Linked DNA regions of Homo sapiens. The protein of the gene in region 1 interacts with the protein of each later gene in a biochemical or structural test. Each region holds a gene or a part of one and is shown on either strand. Other genes may lie near its edges.

Region 1 (8,496 bases):
CTTGTAAACCAAAGGTACCTACCAAGCAACTCAGAACCAAGACCAATAAGCATTTTATGACTTAACCATGGACAAAAGAGACATCCTCAAGGCTGGGCACAATGGCTCATGCCTGTAATCTCAGCACTCTGGGAAGTCAAGGTGGGAGGACCACCTGAGGCCAGGAGTTCCTGATCAGTCTGGGTGAGACTCTGTCTCTTAAAAAAGAGAGAGAGAGAGAGAGAAAGACACACTCCAAAGAGGGTGCACAAAGATTCAGCACTCTCAAATCCAGACCCCTTGCAAAGACAGTCAAAAGAAAGAAGGCACCTTTGGGTTTTTTTTTTTTTTTTGAGACGGAGTCTCGCTCTGTCACCCAGGCTAGAGTACAGTGGCGCGATCTTGGCTCACTGCAACCTCTGCCTCCTAGATTCAACCCATTCTCCTGCCTCAGCCTCCCGAATAGCTAGGATTACAGGCATGCGCCACCACACCTGGCTAATTTTTTTGTATTTTTAGTAGAGACAGGGTTTCACCATGTTGGTCAGGCTGGTCTCTAACTCCTGACCTCGTGATTTGCCTGGCTCAGCCTCCTAAAGTGCTAGGATTATAGGCGTGAGCCACCGTGCCTAGCCAGAAGGCACCTTTGTTGACACAGGTGACTAAGGATGTCATCTTGTACAGAACACTGTCACGTCTCCAGTCATGGACTGGCTCATCTATCACACCAATGAATACTGAGACAACAAAAACCCCTTATAGACTTGGCCCACTTACAAACTCCTCTGTCATGGTCAGAAAAAGAGAAGGTTCAGAACCTTCTCTTTGGCCGGGCGTGGTCCCTCATGCCTGTAATCCTAGCACTTTGGGAGGCTGAGACAGGTGGACTGAGGCCAGGAGTTCCTGACCAGCTTGGGTGAGACCCTGTATCTTAAAAATAAAAGAGGCCAGCCACGGTGGCTCATGCCTGTAATCCCAGCACTTTGGGAGGCCGAGGTGGGCAGATCACCCGAGGTCAGGAGTTCGAGACCAGCCTGACTAACATGGTGAAACCCTGTCTCTACTAAAAATACAGAAATTAGCTGGCGTAGTGGCAGGTGCCTGTAATCCCAGCTACTCAGGAGGCTGAGCCGAGATCCCGCCATTGCACTCCAGCCTGGGTGACAGAGCAAGACTCCGTCTCAGAAAAGAATTAAAAAAAAAAAAAAAAAATCACCCTGCGCAACATGATGAATCCCCCTCTTTACTAAAAATACAAAAAAAATTACCTGGACGTGGTAGTGTGTGCCTGTAGTCCCAGCTACTCAGGAGGCTGAGGCAGAAGAATCAGTTGAGCCCAGGATGCAGCAGTTGCAGTGAGCCAAGATCATGCCACCATGCCACTGCACTCCAGCCTGGGCGAAAGAGCAAGACTATTAAAACAAAACAAAAAACAAACAAACAAACAAAAACCAAACTTTCTCTTTTTCTGACCGGGACAGAGGAGTTTGTAATAATGCAAGCTGTTACTTGCAACCCTAACGCAAGCTGTCCTAAAGCAAGCTGTCACTTGCACCCACTGGCTATTCAGAGATCAGGGAGAATATTCTCACTGGTCATAAAGCCAAGCTCTCAGGACACAAATAAAACAAACAGGAAAGAGGTAGCTGTGCCTGGGAGGAAAGGATCAATAACAAACAGTTACCCCTCAACCAAATTTAAGCAAGAGTCACAATCCAGACACAATGTTTTCTTCTGCTAATTTGAATTTGGAAAGGAAGGGACAAGAAGTTTTTACCTTCCACTCTCAGCTGAGTACTACAGGCAGTGATATGGGACAGTTAACCTTGGTAAGAATGCTTACCTTTTGCCAGTTGTCCCAAGTGGGGTGTCTTTGCCACCCCACTTGTTTGTTGGGTGCCAGAAAGAGTAGGGGGAAAAGGTAATATTTTTTCCTCACGCATCACAAGGTTCCTGGTTGACACCCCTCTAACAAAGGACAGATTAACAAGAGAAAAGCATATCAATTTATTTAATATAAATTTTATATGACACAGTAGCCTTCAGAAAAAAGCCCCAGTGTCTAGTGAGGGGTCCGTTCTCTGCTTTTTTTTTTTGAGACGGAGTCTTGCTCTGTCACCCAGGCTGGAGTGCAGTGGCGCGATCTCAGCTCACTGCAAGCTCTGCCTCCCGGGTTCACGCCATTCTCCTGCCTCAGCCTCCCAAGTAGCTGGGACTACAGGCGCCCACCACCATGCCTGGCTAATTTTTTGTATTTTTAGTAGAGATGGGGTTTCACCATGTTAGCCAGGATGGTCTTGATCTCCTGACCTCATGATCCTCCCACCTCGGCTTCCCAAAGTGCTGGGATTACAGGCGTGAGCCACTGCGCCCAGCCGATTCTCTGCCTTGAAGATGGTGCTTATTACAGTGTCCTCACCTGGCAAAAGTGGGGGATGAGCTCCTTCGAACCTCTTTTATACACTGATCCCATGGTGAGGACTTCACCCTCATGACCTAAACCCCTCCCAAAGGCCCTACTTTATAATAGTATCGCACTGAGGATTCAGTTCCAACATATGAATTTTGGGGGTACCGACATTCAGACCACAGTGGCCTTCTTGTTGCTGCCCCAGGATTCCTTTTCCTCTCCTCTCTGGGTCCACCCGTACACCTGGTCCCATTGGGCCTTGGAGGTCAGTCTTCCCCTACCTGGAGCCAAGGGGGGCCTCATCTTCCCCCAGACCTGCTCTTGCTCTGGCTCCCCTGTAGGCAGGGTGGGCCTACTTCCCCACCCATCTCCTGGGCTCATTCTTCACACATCACTGGGCTTATACTGGGGAACCTGCTTCCTTCCCAGGTTTCTAGCCTGCTCCACTCTGGTCTTCACTCCCTGCCTGAGACCACAGCACTGTGGCTGGCTCCCTACTCAGTCTTCGTCTCTACCATATTGGCATCTGCCCACCCTGGCTACAGGGTGCCCTCAGGGCTAAGTCAAGCCTCCAAAGGGCAGGGTCTGCTCTCCAACCTTCCCTTCAGGCTCAGAAAATTCTGGAAACCTCCACACCACTCACTTTGAAGGATCTCACCTCCACGTTTGCTGACACTGTCGGCTTCCTGGAATGCTTTTCTTAATCCCAAAGTCCTCCTCTGTTACACAGTAGGGGGGTCTCCTCCAGAAAGTCTTTCTAGGAGGAAGCCCACTCCCATTTGGAACCTCTGCCTCTGGAGGCCAATCCCGTTCTCTTGATCCTTGTCTGGGACCCTCAGTTATCTCTCTGGACTCAGCCAGGACAGCAATTCTCTTCCGTGTATTTTCCTCCTTTTACATTCCCCTTCCACCAATTTTTTTTTTTTTTTTTTTTTTTTTTTTTGAGACGGAGTCTCGCTCTGTCACCAGGCTGGAGTGCAGTGGCGCGTGATCTCGGCTCACTGCAACCTCTGCCTCCCGGGTTCAAGCGATTCTCCTGCCTCAGGCTCCCGAGTAGCTGGGACTACAGGTGCGCGCCACCACGACCGGCTAGTTTTTTTGTGTGTGTTTTGGTAGAGATGGGGTTTCACCATGTTGGCCAGGATGGTTTCCATCTCCTGACCTCGTGATCCGCCCGTCTCGGCCTCCCAAAGTGTTGGGATTACAGGCGCCAGCCACCAAGCCCGGCCCCACCTTTCTTTTTAACCATGAGCCATCTCCAGCCACATCCTCCCCCTACCACTCTCTCCACCCTTCACAGTCCCTCTCAAAACCACAGTGTGGGACACTCCAACCTTATCCCATCAGGAGGCTCTGTGGCTCCAAGCTCTGGGCGCAGCCATTACGGATACGCCTCGGAGGATGGGACCTGCTCGAAGGTGAGGTGGAGAACAATGAATGCCAAGACCCGCGCACGGACCTCTGGGACCAGGCTTTAAGACTGGGAATTAGATTTACTGCAAAATCTCAGTAAAGGAACGGGCACACAAACTAGCACCTGTTCACTCTGGCGGTGTTAAGCGATTCTCCCCGATATCCCGCAGGGGGCGCGCTACGGTCAGCGGCACCGACCGCGGAGGGAGCGGGGAAGGAGCAGGCCGCGGGAGGGAGGGAATGAGCGCGTGACGAAGGGAACAAGTGGAGGAGAGGAGGAAAGAAGGGAATCAAAGAGGGAGGGAGGCAATGGGAGAAGAGGAGAGGGAGGGAGGGAAAGAAGGGGGGAAATGAGACAGGGAGGGAAGGAATGAGAGAGGGAGGAGAGAACGAGAGTTAAGGAGGGAGGGAAAGGGAATGAGAGAGGGAGGGGATGAGAGGGGGAGACAGGGAGGGAGTGAATGAGTGAGGGAGGAAGGGAATGGTGGGTAAGATAGGAAGGGAAGGAATGAGAGAGTGAAGGAGGGAGGGAATGAGAGGGGGGGAGTAAGAGAGGAGAGAAGAGAGTGAAGAAGGGAATGAGGAAAGGAGAGGGAGGATATGAGCGGGGAGGGAGATAGTGAGGAAGGGCAGGAGGAAGTGAGTCGAGGAATGAGGGTAGGACCGAGGCAAGGAAAGAGTCAATGGATTCAGACGGGGCGACTCTCGGCAAATTCGCTCATTCGTTGGTTCGGCCCCGCCAAGTGCCAGGTGCCGCGCTAGTGCGGGGACTCACTGAGCCTTGGCGATCGCTGCTGTCCTCCGCAGAGCGCCGGAGTGGAGCCGCCCCCTGTCTCCCCGCCCCAGGGCCGCCCCCGCGCTGCTACCCGGCCAGGCCGGGAACCCCCGGGCCTACGTCTGGCCCGCCCGGCGCCTGCGCGGCGCACCCACGTGACGGCCCAGGCCCCCGCCCCGCCGGCTCCTCTCGCCCAGCCTCCCGCCTCGCGCCTCCCGCCTCCCGCCTCCCGCCTCCCTCCAGCTGCGAGTGCGGCCTCGGCTGGCGGCGGCACCAGGTCAGCTGCGAGGCGTGAGCCGAACGGGCCGGGCGGCAGCGAACGCGGGGGTCGGGCGGCAAGCAGGCATCGCTGGGCCGGGGACAAGCTAGCGGCGCGGAGTCCGAGGGGCGCGGGGGCGGGCGCGGGCCGGAGGCTCGGGGGCGGCGACCTGAGGAGAGCCCGCGGCCTGACGTGGCGGGGACGCGGCCGGCGGGATCCCCGGGCGCGGGCGCGTAGGGGCCGGGATCTGGCGCTCGGCCAGGGGCCAGGGTGCGAGGCCTCCTCAGCGCGGCTGCTGGCGCGCCGGCCTCCTGGCACCCGGGCGGGCCCTGTTGCCTGCGGCAGGTCCGAATGCGGCCTTCCTGGCCGCGACCCTCCGCGCTGGAGCGGGCGGCCTTGCAACAGGCGGGCGATTTGGGGCCGGCCTGACGAGCCTCAGTTCCCTCGATCGGGCCCGGGGACTGCAGCCGTAGGAGCCCAGCCTTGCCAGCTCTCCCGGTTTCCTGAGAGGAGCCGGAGATCGCGCTGTCAGTGCAAAATCACCAGAGCGCGAAGCGTCGGCTGCCAGTTCTGACCATTTTAGATCCGGTGCGGGCCGAGCCGAGTGGATCTGGGGCGGGCAGCGGGGCACCGCCACCTTCCGCCTGGGCTCCTCACTGGGCGCCCTCGCTCCGGCCCTCCGCGGGGCCGAGTGCCTCCAAGACGGCTCCCTGGGAGATTCTTCCAGAGCGCACCCTTTGGAAGGCTGCCCCGCTGGGAATCAGCACCCACTCCCTCTCCTCTACCGCAGCCGCCCCCTTTGCCTTTGTGGCCGACCTTGCTTCATGCTGCCAAGGATTGAGTTTCTTTGAGGGGATACTGCTCGTTCGGGGGCCCTACAGAAGGCTGAGGGTATCTACTCAGTAAAATCGTACCGAACTGAAAGTTCCTCTGAAATGATTTTGACTCTGCCATCCATCACTTCATAAAAATTCATCTTGTATCCTTCAGTTTGTAGCTATGTGGCACATTAAGCTTCCTTTCTTCTCCCCACTGAAACTTCGAACAGTACAAAACGGGGAACTTGGCTTGTGATGACTAAAATTGGGGATATGAGACTGGGGGCGGGCGCGGTGGCTCATGCCTGTAATCCCAGCACTTTGGGAGGCCAAGGCTGGCAGATCACCTGAGGTCAGGAGAGACTAGCCTGGCCAACATGGTGAAACCCCGTCTCTACTAAAAATACAAAAATTAGCTGGGTGTGGTGACACGTGCTTGTAATCCCAGCTACTCGGGAGGCTGAGGTAGGAGAATCGCTTGAACCCAGGAGATGAAGGCTGCAGTGAGCCAAGACCCTACCACTGCACTCTAGCCTACACCATATAGTGAAACCTCTTCTCTACAAAGAAAATTTGAAAAATTAGCCGGGCGCAGTGGTGAGCTCCTGTTGTTCCAGCTTCTGAGGAAGCTGAGGTGGGAGGATCACTTGAACCTGGGAGCTTGAGACTGCAGTGAACCCCAAGCTGTCTCACCCCAGATAGCCAGGACTACAGGTGTACACCACCATGCCTAGTTAATTTTTAAATTTTTTGTAGAGAAAGGGTCGCGCTATATTGCCCAAGGTGGTCTTGAACTCCACCTACCTGGACCTCCCAAGGCACTGGGATTACAGGCATGAGCCACCATGCCCAGCCTACTTTGCACTTTTTTTTTTGGGGGGGGGGCAAAGTCTGGCTCTGTCGCCCAGGCTGGAGTGCAATGGCACAATCTTGGCTCACTGCAACCTCCACCTCCTGGGTTCAATCGATTCTCCTGCCTCAGCTTCCCCCTTCCTCAGCCTTCCCAGTAGCTGGGATAACAGGCATGCGCCACCACGCCCCACTAATTTTTGTATTTTTAGTAGAGATGGGGCTTCCTCATGTTGGCCAGGCTGGTCTTGAACTCCTGACCTCAGGTGATCCTCCCACGTTGGCCTCCCAAAGTGCTGGGATTACAGGCATGAGCCACTGTGCCCAGCCTACTTTGCACATTGTTTTTTTGTTTGTTTTTTTGTTTTTGAGACGGAGTCTCGCACTGTCATGCAGGCTGGAATGCAGTGGCGTGATTCTCCTGCCTCAGCCTCCCAAGTAGCTGGGATTATAGGCACCTACCACCATGCCCGGCTAATTTTTTTGTATTTTTAGTAGAGATGGGGTTTCACTATGTTGGCCAGGCTGGTCTTGAACTCCTGACCTCGTGATTCATCCGCCTCAGCCTCCCGAAGTGTTGGGATTACAGGCGTGAGCCACTGCGCCCGGCCACTTTGCGCATTTTGACTGTTGCCTAATGTTCTGTCAGATCACTGTGCCATGACATCTGTTCTCCTGAGGGTGGACGTTTTGGTGATTTAAAACCGTATAGATGTGGTTTTAAATGTTTTAAATGTTGCACCCTGTGCTGTGCTCCTTCCCAGCAGAGAATTGATTCATTTTTCAGCATATCCCCCTTAGCCCCTAGCTAAGTTTCTTAAATTGGACTTGGTAAATGTGCTTTGCCTGCCCATGGAAGATGTCTTTCTGTTTTACCGTACTTGTTTTTGCAGTATGGGTTTAGGGAGTAGCTGCCATTTATCCCTTCCCAAGAGAGCAGAGGCACTACTATGCTCACGGAAGGTGAGGATCCACCTGGGGGCTTGATGTCTATTGGGGTAGTTGTGGAGGTCACCCTCAGAGAAGGAGGCCCTCTTGACTCTGCGGTGGTCATGGTGGTGATGAGAAAGCTGAGGCGTGGGTATATGAGACAAGTGCCCAGAGTCTGTCATTAGCAAGTGGTACAGCCAGCCATGGGGGCTTTTGAGATGTTTGTGAGATAAAACCTCACCCCTCAAGAAGCCGGAATCTCCTTGTCGTGGGTAAATAGGCAGGTTTGGGCCGGGCGCGGTGGCTCATGCCTGTAATCCCAGCACTTTGGGAGGTCAAGGCAGATGGATCACCTGAGGTCAGGAATGCGAGACCAGCCTGACCAACATGGTGAAACCCCATTTCTGCTAAAAATGCAAGAAAATTAGCTGGGTGTGGTGGTGCACGCCTGTAATCCCAGCTACTGGGGAGGCTGAGGCAGGAGAATCACTTGAACCTGAGAGGCAGAGGTTGCAGTGAGCCAAGATCACACCACTGCACTCTAGCCTGGGTGACAGAGCGAGACTCCGTCTAAAAAAAAAAAAAAGGGCAGGTTTGAATGGTGGGGCATATTTGTCATGTTCTCTGTACAATGATAGAGGGAGAAGTAATCGAGCTAGACCTTGACCAATATGGGACTATGAGAGACAGAATGGCCTAGATGGGTGACTAAAGGTGTTCAGGGGATGACAGGTATCCCTTTTGGACTAAGGACTGCTGATGGGGCTGAGTAGGTAAGGCTTGAAGGAGAGCAGCCTGGGGAGGATGAGACAAGAGGTAGGGAAACTGGTAGGGGCATCACTGCTGTGGTCTGACCCAGAGTGGTGGCCCTGGAGGAGTGGAGGGTGGCTGTCTGAGATGGAGGAGAGGTGAAGGAATCAGAACTAGTAGGTTCATAGGGCACATGGGTTAGAAAGGAAAAATATTAAAACAGTGAGGTTTCCAAGATGGAAATGGTAGCTTTGATAGTAAAATTAGACAAGTTGGAGGGCTACTAGCTAGATTAGGCACTGAGCTGTAGGTG
Region 2 (7,178 bases), on another chromosome or scaffold:
TGACAGAGCAAGACACTGTCTCAAAAAACAAAAACCAACCCCCCAACCAAAAAAAAATCAGTATTTCCAATATATAGTCAAAGGCCACCACTAAGACTTATCCCACATTCACATGACTTAAATCTGCTGCCCCACCATTATTCTAACATTCTGGAACTGGTTTTTGTATCACTTTCCCCCTTACACATTTTAGTAGCCCACCTAGAGTGCAGATAGACACCACCATGCTGGGGAAGGGCTCACTATGCCCATATACTGGGGGCCTGTTTATCTGACTGACCCTATGCCAGGAGCATGCAGAGGCAGAACTGTGACATACGGACAAAGACCAAATGAAAGCCAGGCTTCACACTGGCAGTTAAGTAACTGGTGGAATCAAGTCTAGAATCCAGTTCTGATTACAGTTAGTATTCTCTCTTCAATAGTTGTTACATTCTGTGGCTAAATTATTCCACATTAAATCCCCTTTAGTGAAAAACGGCACTAAAAGTTACTTCACTATCAGCTTTCAACATTAGAGCCTCTTTCTCAAGAACAGCTGTTCATATTATTTAATAAAATACAAAATAATTCGAGAATAAAGACTATGCTTTCAGGGATCATTTCTATAGTTCGTTACTCGGGAAGTTTCTCTGAACGTGTAAAGCACCGAACAAAAAAAAAAAAAACAATTCAAGAATAAAATCTGGGCAGCTCACAATAAAGTGGAAGGAAATGTTATACAGGTGGTCGCTATAAACATTTCAGAAATCCAATTGCAGTATTATAACTTATGAAAAGAGAAACTACCACATGTAAAAACACAGAAAAGAAACGTAAGTTTTGGAAAACGTAGACTTTTAATAACTGCTTTTATCACCAGGTTAAGCCATGCAGTTACAAAGTAGTTAGAAATTTCTGAAGGGTGTTAGAGTTAAAAAAAAAAAAAAAGCTGACTCTTACACATATATTATCTAGCACTTCATGGGGACACTACTGTTCAAAAGGCCCTGGCCAAATAACTCCCAAATGAAACACTCAACCCAAGGATGTTTTCAGCCCACTGTTAGTGAAGCTGGGTGCAGAATGCAAAGCCTCTAAAAGGAGAGGATACAAAGTCAGGTGAGTAGGGGCCATTGGCAATGCTCAGAGCCAGCCAGACTCCAAACAGGGAGCCCAAGTGGTTTTTTTCTGGGACACTCTACTTGAATTATTGTTTAATTAGTCAACCATAGATCTTCAAAAGAGAACAATTAGTTAACATGATAAAAAGTGACTGCATTCTTTGGACTGTATCATAATTATAGTAAGCAAATTCTGACAGTTTTAATGAAAATAGCCTCCACCATTTTGCAGGTATGAAGATAACTTAATTATCCACAGGGCTTTTAATGTCTGCTGGACAATACATGAATGATAAGCTATAAATGACATTGTTTTATGATATAAAAATACTAGTTTTTTTCATTTATTATTTCTATAGGCATTCACTGTTTGAGTCAAGGTTAGGCTTGTTAAGTGATTAAAGGCAATTTTATTACAGCAGCATGTACTTATTCTATTCTAAAAGAATAATATTCATAAACAGAAACAGGTTTTATATTTGTTTGCAACCTGCAAAATTGAATTATTTTGCTGATATAAAATACTAAGAACTCACTTGAGGACCATGCCACCTTCTGAAAAGGCCACACACCTACTTCTTAAATGTGTTAAAGTTACAGTGTGTCCCAGACTCATCCAGAAAAAATAAGCAAGCAACTGACTGCTCTTGACTGTTCCTCCCCAGCACTAGCACTGATTGTGTTGGGAAAAGCCACAGAGCAAGGCTGCACAGCCAGATAAAGGAGGCTTTTTATTTAAAGGCAAAATACCAAAATGGCTCTCTGGTGTAGGTGATTTCTACTTTCACACTCAGCTTGTACATGATCCGCTAACCTTAATTTCTTTCTCCTTAACGGGCTGACTTGGATTGACTTGTTGAGAATGGTATCCATTATTAATGAGTCAGGAGAGAAAGGGATTTCTGTGGTTACATGTAAACTTGTGATAGGTCTGCAGAAGTTACATGTGAAGAGGATAGTGAGGAAGTCAGCCATGATCCATCTATGTGAAGGTCACACCAGCTTCATTGTACACTTTGAAGACTTTCTCAATGGCATTAACATAGGCAGCTGTTCTCAGGTCCAATCCCAGGTTATACTTCATGGCTGTGCGCATAATTTGCTGAAATGAAAGAGAAAATGCAGTGAAGATGATCCTGACTCAAGTGGCCAGGCCATAAACACACAAGGCCCAGACAGGCCTGGTCCAAGTTACCCTCTCATTGTTTCAAGGCAGGACTTGGGCAGCCAAAGACAAACTACTCTAGCAGCAGAACCTCTAGGCAGGAGGGCCTAATTCTCTGGACTTAACAATGGGGTGGCTGGGTGCGGTGGCTCACGCCTGTAATCCCAGCACTTTGGGAGGCCGACGTAGGCAGATCACTTGAGCTCAGGAGTTCAAGACCGGACTTGCCAACATGGTAAAACCCTGTCTCTACTAAAAATACAAAAATTAGGCAGGGGTGCGGTTGCTCACACCTGTAATCCCAGCACTTTGGGAGGCTGAGGCAGGTGGATCACTTGAGGTCAGGAGTTCGAGACCAGCCTGACCAATATGGTGAAACCCCATCTCTATTAAAAATACAAAAAATTAACCGGGTGTGGGGGTGGGCGCCTGTAATCCCGGCTACTCGGGAGACTGAGGAAGGAGAATTGCTTGAAGCCAGGAGGCGGTGGTTGCAGTGAGCAGAGATTGCACCATTGCACTCCAGCTGGGTGACAGAGCGAAACTCCATCTCAAAAAACTAAACAAAATGAAAACAAAATCAAAAATTAGTTGGGCATGGTGGCTCATGCCTGTAATCCCAGCTACTCGGGAGGCTAAGGGACAAGAATTGCTTGAACTTGGGAGGTGGAGGTTACAGTGAGCTGAAAGTGCGCCACTGCACTCTAGCCTGGGCAACAGGGCAAAACTCCGTCTCAAAAAAAAAAAAAAAAAAAAAAAAAAGGGAGTGATGAAAATGTTCTAGAATTATAAAGTGGTGATGGCTCAAATATATAATAAAGGATGCCGAATTTAATACTTTGAAAGGATGAATTTATACCACATACACCCTATCTCGATCAAAAATTAACAAGAAAAACAACAGCCCTAAGAAGCACCACCTTCTTCACCAATATCTGCTTATGCTATTTCATCATAAATCCAAGCAGATAGAATCTGAACCCAAGAAGAAATTAGGAAAACTGGACTCAAACTGTGGTTGAGGCCTTAAAGTAGGGATCAAGCAGTCAAAATAAGTTTTGCTTATACCAAATTCTATAGTAAGGTAGACTCCCGTAGCTATAACATAGTGGCACATGGAGCTACAATCCAGTTTGGCTAACTACTCCATACTGGGCTAGCTGCCAACATCATTACCTCCTAAATCAGCCTTATTATTTCTTTCCAAAGCCTCAAAAACATATTTGAAGACTCTAAAAAATTGCTTATCATCTGAGACTGAAAAAACATGTGTTTTGCTACACACAAATGAGGACCATTGAACAGATTGATGTTTTCTATCAGCACATACAGTCTGGCGGCTGAGATAGCATGGTTGAGTTGCACTTCATGTGACTAGCTGGAAGGCAAACAGCATCTGCACACATACCCTGGCAGAACGCTCCATTGTGTATGCCAAGCCAGAGTGCACGATGTCTTTCTCAGATGCACCCTATTAGGGAAAAGAACACAAGTTTAACAAAACCACAAAGACCTGCTTTGTGTCCCTGTATAAGATGACAAAGGATTCTCAAGTCAATATACAACCAGACAGAATTTTTTGTCTTTTAGCTAAGATATGTCATTTCTGCACAGTATCAAAGATACAGTATCTTGATACTTACTGAAGCAGTTGCTTGTTGATCACAATTTATTTTTATTATATTTGACAGCAAACAAATACTCATGAAATAAGATTATAGTACAACAATGAAGACAGTTTTTGGACCTAGAGACATGAGGGCATGGAGTGAGATGAGCACCCTCCACTCATGGAGACGCAGATGCACTGAGCAATGTGTTACACTGTTCATGCCACGGTGCGTTCGCCTCAGCTCCCCAGAGAACAGGGACACCACACAGAACACAGAAAGGAATCTGATTAAACCCCATAGCGGCTTTGGGGTAGAATTCTGTGTATCTATTCAGTAGTGCCAGCAACTTTTAAAGCTGTGTAGATCTCAGCAGCGTTTTAATTTTACTGATGAGGAAACTAAGGACCAGAGAAGATGGCCAAGGTTACAGATAGCTATTTTCAGAGCTGGGATATGACTCAGGGCCTCCACCATCAAGTCAGTTCTCTCTTTCCTAATTTGTTTCTTGGAATGCTTTCTAAAAAATTAAGGACAATTAACTCACTACCACTCTTAAGGTGACATACAGAGCTACAAAACACATATGCCCGATAAAAACTTAAAATGGGTCACTGATATAGTTTGGACACTTACTGAGTACATACTCTTCCAGGTACTAGGGGACATAGTAGAGAATAAAATCAAAATTCTGTTCTCACAGACTTTATATTGTAGTGGGAAGAGAGTGTATATACATGGACTTCAAACCACAAGGCTAAGTGGATCATTGAAGTTTTCAATCTAGATAGAGAAGTGGTTTAGGGACGCAGGCCTTCCAATGTTAGGAGAGTGAAGAGTTGAAGAGATACCAGCAAGAGGCAATTGAGAAGAAATGTTTAGTGAGGTAGGGAGAAAACCAGGAGAATGTGGTATCCTGGAAGCTAAGAGAAGAAAATGTTTCAAGGTGGGAGTGTCAGTTGTAACAAGAACTGCTGATAGGTCAAGCAAGATGAGGACTGAAAAATAGCTACTGGATTTGGCAATGCTGGTGTCACTGGCTGTCTTGACAAGAATAGTCTTGGTGGAGTAGGTTCAAGTAAAGAAGAATTGGAGGCTGAGTATATACAACTCTTCCAAGGAGGTTTGCTCTACAGGAAACAAATGGCAATACTGGAAGGGGAAGTGGGATTAAGATTTATACATTTTTTAAAACAGCATTTGGTAAGCTGAGGGGAATGACTCAGAGGGAAACTGCTGATGTAGGAGAGAGGAGCAGACTTGCTAGAGCAGTGTATCTGAGGAAAAACCATCCAATGCCCACAACAAGAACTGGACCTAAGAAATGAAAGCACAAAGAGCTGATCTATTCGAAGAGAGATGACACAGGACTGGGTACAGGTACCAGGAGCTGGGTAGATGCGGAAGCTCCCAGGCTGCATCAGTTTTATCTGTGAACAGATAGCAGGTCATGAGCTGGAATGCAGGGCAGTGAGAAGAGGAGAAAATGTGATGTAATCACTCAGGAGACGGGGAGAATGAATGAAACACGGAAAAGCAGTATGACTGCTGGGCAGCTCTGAGCGCCTACTTGAGGTTAGTGGTCAGGGTGTGAACTGCCAGCAGGGCCTCCTACAGGGTAGAGGCACGGGATTTAATCAGGGATTTAATCAGGGCTGCTGGGATTTAATCAGGGCTTAGGTGTTAACAAAGGAGTATGACAAAGGAAACAAGACTGGGGAGTGACTGTAATGATGGAGCACGGAATTTAAGTTAGATAAGGAGGGAAGTGAGGGCACTGGGGGGATGAGGGACAGTGGAAACATGGCAGGGTCATGATGTGGGTCCTGATAGTGCCAAACAGGGGCAGGGGGAAACTAGAGGGAGAGAGCTTGAGAAAACTTTTATTTTTTTAACTGACAAGGCATATGCTGGGCAGTGGGGTGACCAAAGGGAGGGGTGAACAGCCCTCTGGCAGGGACAGTAGCAGCGCAAGTCCTTCCGATGCACTGCTAGCCACTTGGGATGGATGTTATGTACGAAACAGTGGCACACAGGAGACTTTCAGAGAGAGCCACAGAACTGCAGTGACACTTAAGCAGGGAGGAGATCAGTGTATTCCAGATAAAAGGACCAGAACAAAGACATCACTCTAGGAAATAGGAAGTTTACTGAGGGGAACGGTTAGTACCTAGAATGGGTAAAGCATTTTTTCTTTCTTTACAACAAAATCTTTAACTTTTTCCCATGTTGCAATATAGTCTCAGAACTGTTTTCCATCACTGAATATTTCATAAGGAGATATATTGACGGCCGGGCGCGGTGGCTCACGCCTGTAATCCCAGCACTTTGGGAGGCCGAGGCGGGTGGATCACGAGGTCAGGGGTTTGAGACCAGCCTGACCAACAAGGTGAAACCCCGTCTGTACTAAAAATACAAAAAAATTAGCTGGGTGTGGTGGCGGGCGCCTGTAATCCCAGCTACTCAGGAGGCTAAGGCAGGAGAATTGCTTGAACCTGGGAGGCAGAGGTTGCAGTGAGCCAAAATCGCACCACTGCACTCCAGCCTGGGTGACAGATCGAGACTCTGTCTCAAAAAAAAAAAAAAAAAAAAAAAAACCAAAAAAAAAGAAGATATAATTTACCCATTGTAATATATTCTTAAACTATGAGTGAATATTACCTAAGATGTATTATAAGATATAAGTCAGCCATTTCCCTGCTCCTAAACTTTAAATAAAACCAAATTTAAAAACTGTTTACACCGTTTCTTTTTTTTTTTTTTTTTGAGATGGAGTTTCGCTCTTGTTGCCCAGGCTGGAGTGCAGCGGTGCATTTCTTGGCTCACTCCAACCTCTGCCTCCTGGGTTCAAGCGATTCTCCTGCCTCAGCCTCCCGAGTAGCTGGGACTACAGGTGCGTGCCACCATGCCTGGCTAATTTTTTGTATTTTTAGTAGAGACGGAGTTTCACCATGTTGGCCAGGCTGGTCTTGAACTCCTGAACTCAGGTGAGCCACCTGCCTTGGCCTCCCAAAGTGCTGGGATTATAGGCGTGAGCCACCGCACCTGGCCTACACATAGTTTCAATAACATCATCGTGCATGGAGTGGTTCCTCCTCTTTTGAATTATTTTCTTAGGATAAATTCCCAGAGGGGAGATTGTCATAGCACCAAAGGGCAGGAACACTTTAATAACTTCACATTTTCCAAAGAGCTGCACCAATCTACACCGTCACTAGAATAAAGGTACAACTGTTTCACCACATATATGGAGAACATAAGATCCATTGTTTTTGTTAATACATTAAAAAAAAAAAACTC
Region 3 (7,178 bases), about 11 Mb from region 1:
GAGGTTGCAGTTATCTGAGATCACGCCACTGTACTCCAGCCTACGTAACAGAGTGAGACACTGTCTCACACACACACACACACAAAATCCTGGAGTTTAATGCATTTGTTCCTTTCCAGCTCAATAAGAGCCCATTAAGCTAAAGTTTAATTTTAGCCACAGCTTGAGACAATCTTACTGTCATCTTCTTGAGAACAGAATATAGATAAAAAAGAATGGACTAGGAAAAAGTGAATTCAGGGGAAAATTTTTTTTCAGTTGTCAGAGAGACCTAACAGAAAACAAAACAACATAACTCCTTGTAACCAAGACAGGATATCAATATCCAAGAGATCTAAGAGAAGAAGGAATGAACAAGAATGAGGGACATCTGACTTAGGAAAGAAAGCAGGTGGCAATGCATAGTTCCTCTCAAATAGAAACAAAGGGCCGGATGCGGTGGCTCACATCTATAATCCCAGCACTCTGGGAGGTTAAGGTGGGCAGATTGCTTGTGTCCAGGAGTTCAAGACCAGCCTAGGCAACATGGTGAAACCCTGTCTCTACTAAAAATACAAAAAACTAGCCAGGCCTGGTGGCACGTACCTACAGTCCCAGCTACTTGGGAGGCTGAGGTGGGAGAATCACCTGAGCCCTGAAGGTTGAGGCTGCAGTGAGCTGAGACTGCACCACTGCACTCCAGCCTAGGCAACTAGAGTGAGACCCTGTCTCAAAAGAAAAAAAAAAAAAAAAGGGCAGAAACAAACAAAAAAGCCCTCAGGTTTATACAGCTAATTAGTTACAAAGCCTATTCCCAAGTGCATCTTCAAGGATCTTTACAAGAACCCCTGGGATGGCCAAAGTGGGCATGGTTATCCCATCTTACAGGTGGAGCAACAGAGGCACCTGACCAAGGACACATGGGTGACCGACACTGAGGACCAGGGCTAGGAGCTCCTAGTCCAAGGCTCTCTCTTAAGCAACCAACTTACCCACAGGAAAAGTGTGCATCCAGCGCCTTCTGTTGGACGTAAGCTTCATGGGCATCCGAGAGGGAGCGAAGGGGTTAATCAGTGCTCTCTGGGGCGTGTATCCACCAGGTCGAACATGCAGCATGGATTCTGCACTGCCAACGTGAAACCTCCCTGGTGCACTGGAGTCTCGCTGTGGTGGCTCCATCATGTTCTCCAGGACATCTGCCAGTTATCATGGAGTTGAGTCACAAAGAAAAACCACAGAACCACAGTGAAACCAGAGCTAGGTAGAATGATAAACCAAGGCTGACAAGAATCTTGGGCATTATAAATGTCAGGGAGTGAGAGAAATGAGCAAAACTGTCAAACTATAAAGAAATGAAATATGTTTGCATTTGTTTGCTTTTAAATACTTGGGAGAAGGGAGTTTTGGTTCTAAATTACTGGCAAAATGAAGTCACAACCAAATCTGATGGGAAGGACACTGCCTGAAGATCCTGAACTTTGAGCTGGAAGCAATGACTGAATGATGGGACTTGAGTTGTCTCCCTTGGGAAAGGAACGAGTATATTCTCTAAGAGGGAGGAACAATAAAAATAGCTATGTGGTCACCAGAAGGGCAGATCTTGGCAGAGCTAGTCAATGTCTTCACTATAAACCCATTTGATTTTCCTACTGGACACAAGACTATAGTTCCCAGACCCTTTGCAATAAAGCCAAATGACTTAGTTCTGGCCAGGTAGAAATTATATGCTTCAAATCCAGGCCTGGACCACAATGATCTCCACAAATGATCTGCATTCTTTTTCCCTTTGTGGCAACCCAGGAGACCAATGTTGATAATCATGGCATCCCAGGATGGAAGGAACCTGAGTTCCTGAATGGACTGAGTGGATCAGTAGCCCCTCCACTGACTTAGTGGGCTGGGACATGAGTAAGCAATAAAATGTTATTATGCTAAAAAAATTACTGAGAAAAAAATAACGAAGAAATGGATGCCTCCAGCCTTGACCAGGCAAGGAGATGGTATGATATTTAGACACCACCTGTCTGGCGCAATGGTAGACAGGTCCCATTATGGAGACAGAGACAGCATGCCTGAGTGGATCAAAGAACTGAAATCCACAACCAACTCTTCTTGTGTGTATTCCATGTTCATTAAGCAACCACCCAGATGAAAAAGTGGGTCCAGCAGATGCAAACTCCAAGGAATTTGTCTTGGCCATCATTATCTACCCAATGCCTAGCACAGAACCTCATACACTGTAATACTGTATTTCATTCCTCAAGTTGCTTTGCAGGAAAGAAGAGAATGTTCAGATTTCTGTGAAAGTTTTACTGTTCATTGTAAATTAATGAATTGATGCTCTAACTTACAAAATAAAAAAGAACATAGTCTAGTTAGTTATTAAGGAAATAAAAGAGAAAAACCTAGTAAAAAAAAAAAGATGAGTACAGGCCAGGTACAGTAGCTTATTCCTGTAATCCCAGCACTTTGGGAGACCAAGGTGGAAGGATCACTTGAGCCCAGGAGTTCGAGACCAGCCTGGGCAACAGATTGAGACCGTCCCTACAAAAACTTTAAAAACTAGCCGGGTGTGGTGGTGCACACCTGTAGTCCCAGCTATTTGGGAGGCTGAAGTGGGAGGATCACGTGAGCCCAGGAGGTTGAGGCTGTAGTGAGCCAATATTGTACCACTGCACTACAGCCTGGGCAACAGAGTGAGAACCTGTCTCAAAACAAACAAATAAAAGAAACCACCCATGAAACTGCTCAGGCCATCAAGGGTATGCATATATAAAAAGCCACCAAGTATATGAAAGATGTCACTTTGGCCAGGCAAGGTGGCTCACGCCCGTAATCCCAGCACTTTGGGAGGCTGAGGTGGGCAGATCACCTGAGGTCAGGAGTTCGAGACCAGCCTGACCAACATGGTGAAACCCCATCTCTACTAAAAATACAAAAATTAGCCAGGCATGGTGGCAGGCACCTGTGATCACAGCTACTCGGGAGGCTGAGGCAAGAGAATTGCTTGAACCCGGGAGGCAGAGGTTGCAGTGAGCCAAGATCACGCCATTGCACTCCAGCCTGGGGGACAAGAGTGAAACTCCATCACAAAAAAAAAAGAAAGAAAGAAAGAAAGAAATATGTCACTTTACAGAAACAATGTGTACCATTTCCACATTACAATGATGGAGATAGTAGGTGGTCCCAGGCCACACAGCACGGCTGCACACGGGGTCAGTGGCCAAAAAAGAGTACTGAATTATTGCTACATATGCTTAAAAATGCACAGTCATGCCGAACTTAAGGGTTCAGGTGCAGATCCTCTGGTCATTGAGCATGTCCAGGTGAACAAAGCACCCAAGATGTGCTGCCTGATGTAAAGAGCTCATGGTCAGATTAACCCATACATGAGCTCCCCCTGCGAAACCAAGATGATCCTCATGGAAAAGGAATAAATTATTCCTAAACCAGAAGAGGACATTGCACAGAAGAAAAAGATATCCCAAGGCCAGGCATGGTGGCTCACGCCTGTAATCCCAGCACTTTGGGAGGCCGAGGTGGGTGGATCATTGGAGGCCAGGAGTTTGAGACCAGCCTGGCCAACACGGCAAAACCCCATCTCTACTAAAAAAACAAAAATTAGCTGGTGTGGTGGTGTGTGCCTGTAATCCCAGCTACTTGGGAGGCTAAGGCAAGAGAATCACTTGAACCCAGGAGGCAGAGGTTGCAGTGAGCTGAGATCATGCCACTGTACCCTAGCCCGGGCAACAGAGCAAGACTCTGTCTCAGAAAAAAAGAAAAGAAAAAAAAAGAAAAGAAAGAAACTGAAGAAACAAAAACTGATAGTATGGGAATAAATTCGGTACAAAATCAATGCAAATAAAAGTTAAAAAAAAACAGGTAAGTGAAAAAAAAAGTTTTTTGTTTTTTTTTTTTTGAGGTGGAGTCTCCCTCTGTCACCCAGGCTGGAGTGCAGTGGTGGAATCTCGGCTCACTGCAACTACGCCTGCCAGGTTCAAGTGATTCTCCTGCCTCAGCCTCCTGAGTAGCTGGGATTACAGGCACCCGCCACCACACCTAGCTAATTTTTGTATTTTGAGTAGAGACGGCGTTTCACCATGTTGACCAGGCTGGTCTCAAACTTCTGGCCTCAAGTGATCCACCCGCCTTGGCCTCCCAAAGTGCTGGAATTACAGGTGTGAGCCACTGCGCCCGACCGGTAAATGAGAAACTAAAATGCAACATTAAGACAGAGGTTGTTTTATATATGGCACAAATGGAAATCATAAGGAAATAAACCCTTTTGACCCTAGGCCTAAGAAAAGCTTTCCATTAACATATGGAAAGGCATACAGTTAAATGATGGATGAAGAAAGGCTAAACAAAAAATAGTATAATAGAGGCAGGGTGCGGTAACATTGGTTCATGCCTGTAATCTCAGCACTTTTGGAGGCCAATGGGTGGATCCCTCGAGTCCAGGAGTTCAAGACCAGCCTGGGAATGGTAAAACCCCACCTCTACAAAAAAAAATATGATAATCAGCTGGGTGTGGTGGCATGCTATAGTCCCAGTTACTTGGGAGGCAGAAGTGGGAGGATCAATTGAGTCCAGGAGTTCAAGGCCGCACTGAGGTGAGCTGTGATTGCATCACTGCACTTCCCCACCTCTACAAAAAAAAATATGATAATCAGCTGGGTGTGGTGGCATGCTATAGTCCCAGTTACTTGGGAGGCAGAGGTGGGAGGATCGATTGAGTCCAGGAGTTCAAGGCCGCACTGAGGTGAGCTGTGATTGCATCACTGCACTTTATCCTAGGTGCTCTGTCACCAAAAAAAAAAAAAAAAAAAAAAGAAGTATAATATATACATAGCTAACAGCTAAAGTGATTTGTACCTACTGCACTGGCAAAGAAATCATTAAGATGTGGGATTTACACCCCACCTCTGACCAATCCTCCCACCTCCAGTCACCCACTATATTAAGAAAGATGTCCCTGGCTCTGTCTGTGCTTCAGCACTCTTACCTCGAGTGCTGGTGTATCCCAAGGAGCTGCTGACTTCATACTGGTGCAGGTGGGGGTGTGGGATCATCAGGATGTTGGCACTCTTGCCTAGGGAGCTGTCGTCAGAAGCCTGGCTCCTCACTTCCTCAGTGGGCAGTGTGCGGCTTGGTAGGGAAGGGCTGGATGAAACATCACAGGAGCTGGCACTCTTTCGACTGTGACTCTCTCGCTCTCGCACAGATCTGCCAGGCAAGAGACAAAAAGTTACCATCAAGCGAGGGATGCTGTCCTACCTTGAGTTAAAACTAAAACCCATCACCAGCCCAAGCCACATGGAACCCAATAACAAAAATCCCCAGTGTGATCTACAAGTGGGAAACCTGTATGCGGTACTTCACCCTTAACAGCTTGAGATGTTATATAAGAGAGGGGGGAAATGACAGACATTATGCAGCCAAAGTCCTAGGATCATAGTTGTAAAGAAAGGACTGCTCCAGGCTGACCCCACCTAATCCCACTGATTAATCTCTCATCACTAAAAACAGAATGAGAAGAGAGGTATGATGTGATGTGGGAGAAAGAACATAGTGCCCAAGAAGTCTACTTGCCCTCAAATTTGAATCTAAATCTAATCAAGCTTCCAGAGATAATTGCCAGTTTACAGGGAATCTGCAGAATAGAGGAAAACTGAAACACTACAAGGCAACAATCAGCCAAATGTAGAAAGCAAGACATTCTACTGTCACACACACACACAAAAGGCATTATAACCAAATGCAAAAAGTGGATCTTGTTTAGGTCCCATTTCAAACTAACTGCAAAAGCACATTTTTGAGGCAATTCAAAAAACTGACTATGCACTGGCTATTAGAGGGCATTTAGGGATTAGTGTTAATTTTGTTACCAATGATAATGGTACCGTGATGGGTTTTCTTTTAGTTCTTATTTGTTGAAACATATACTAATCAGCTTTGTGCCAGGCTGGGTGACACTAAATAAATAAATAACATGTAAAAAAAGAAAGAAACTTACGCTGAAGTATGTATTATTGAAAAAAAATAGAGGCTGCCTGGGGTTTGTTTTGTTTGTTTGTTTTTGTGAGACGGAGTCTCACTCTGTCACCCAGACTGGAGTGCAGTGGCATGATCTCAGCTCACTGCAGCCTCCACATCCTGGGTTCAAGTGATTTTCCTGCCTCAGCCTCCCAAGTAGCTGAGATTACAGACGCCCACCACCACGCCTGGGTACTTTTTTCGTATTTTTAGTAGAGACGGGGTTTCACCACGTTGGTCAGCCTGGTCTCAAACTCCTGAACTCAAGTGATCCACCTGCCTTGGCCTCCCAAAGTGCTGGGATTACAGGTGTGAGCCACTGTGCCCGGCCAATCCTGGGATTTGTTTTTAAAATATTCCATCCAAAATTTAAACGTGGGAGAGGTCATGAAACAAGGCTGACAACATGGTGATAACTGTTCATGATACTATTCTCTATTTGAGCACGTCTGAACATTTCCTAATAAAAGTTTATATATGCATATATATATATATATATATAGCCTTATTAAAACATAAAATTCCCTAAGGGGAAAACCTCTAAAAGCAACAGGAAGAAGGATCAAAAAGAAAGAAGCCCTATAGAGAAGCAAAAGCTCAGAACGAAAAAGCAAGCCCACCAACGGGGCTGCCCTTCTGGCATCAGAGCTGCTCCCTTTCCTCCTGGAAGGATTTTTTTAGTAAGAGCTTAAACGGAGCCTGAAAACAGATTCCAAGTGCTGACTACATGTTTGTTCTTTCCACAGTAAATATTTAAACACCAGTATACGCTTAGCCATGTGTGAAGGTAGCACCAATTAAGACACAATTTGTGCCTTCAGAGACCACACAACCTGGGTACCACCAGGTCTTGTCATCTTTAATTAGAAAAAGAAAATCAATCTTGAACTATGAGAGCATTTTTAAAGACTACAAAGAAAAGCCCCTAAGTAGCTCTTACTGAGCCCCTAAGCAGCATCCACACATAGGAGAGAGGCTGCTGACAGCACTTAATTCTGAGCTCTAAGCCTTCTCAGGTAGGACTGGATGAGAGAAAAGGGCAGAAAACAATCATGTGGTCACTCTAAGTTCATTTGCCACAAAATTAAGAGACATAATATTCTTCCACTCAGTTGCGCTTAAAGCTACAGAGTTAAGAAATCTGGCGGGGGCAGTGGCTCACA

The links. Proteins that work in one complex are often made in the same cells at the same time.
Region 2: the proteins of KLHL22 (region 1) and GLUD1 are reported together in a solved structure, tested with the Homo sapiens proteins (one study listed by BioGRID and IntAct).
Region 3: the proteins of KLHL22 (region 1) and DEPDC5 form a complex in vitro, tested with the Homo sapiens proteins (one study listed by BioGRID).

The regions. Positions count from the first base shown.
Region 1 is NC_000022.11:20,492,118-20,500,613, reverse strand, and holds the start of KLHL22 (kelch-like protein 22), read left to right. Parts: upstream 1-4,818; 5' UTR 4,819-4,854; intron 4,855-7,049; exon of another isoform or gene 7,050-7,355; coding exon of another isoform or gene 7,356-7,466; intron 7,467-7,472; exon of another isoform or gene 7,473-8,496. UniProt on the Homo sapiens protein: Substrate-specific adapter of a BCR (BTB-CUL3-RBX1) E3 ubiquitin ligase complex required for chromosome alignment and localization of PLK1 at kinetochores.
Region 2 is NC_000010.11:87,049,666-87,056,843, forward strand, and holds the end of GLUD1 (glutamate dehydrogenase 1, mitochondrial isoform a precursor), read right to left. Parts: intron 3,740-7,178; coding exon 3,677-3,739; intron 2,206-3,676; coding exon 2,086-2,205; 3' UTR 537-2,085; downstream 1-536. UniProt on the Homo sapiens protein: Mitochondrial glutamate dehydrogenase that catalyzes the conversion of L-glutamate into alpha-ketoglutarate. Plays a key role in glutamine anaplerosis by producing alpha-ketoglutarate, an important intermediate in the tricarboxylic acid cycle.
Region 3 is NC_000022.11:31,813,019-31,820,196, reverse strand, and holds part of DEPDC5 (GATOR1 complex protein DEPDC5), read right to left. Parts: intron 5,206-7,178; coding exon 4,985-5,205; intron 4,782-4,984; coding exon of another isoform or gene 4,768-4,781; exon of another isoform or gene 4,206-4,767; intron 1,176-4,205; coding exon 972-1,175; intron 1-971. UniProt on the Homo sapiens protein: As a component of the GATOR1 complex functions as an inhibitor of the amino acid-sensing branch of the mTORC1 pathway.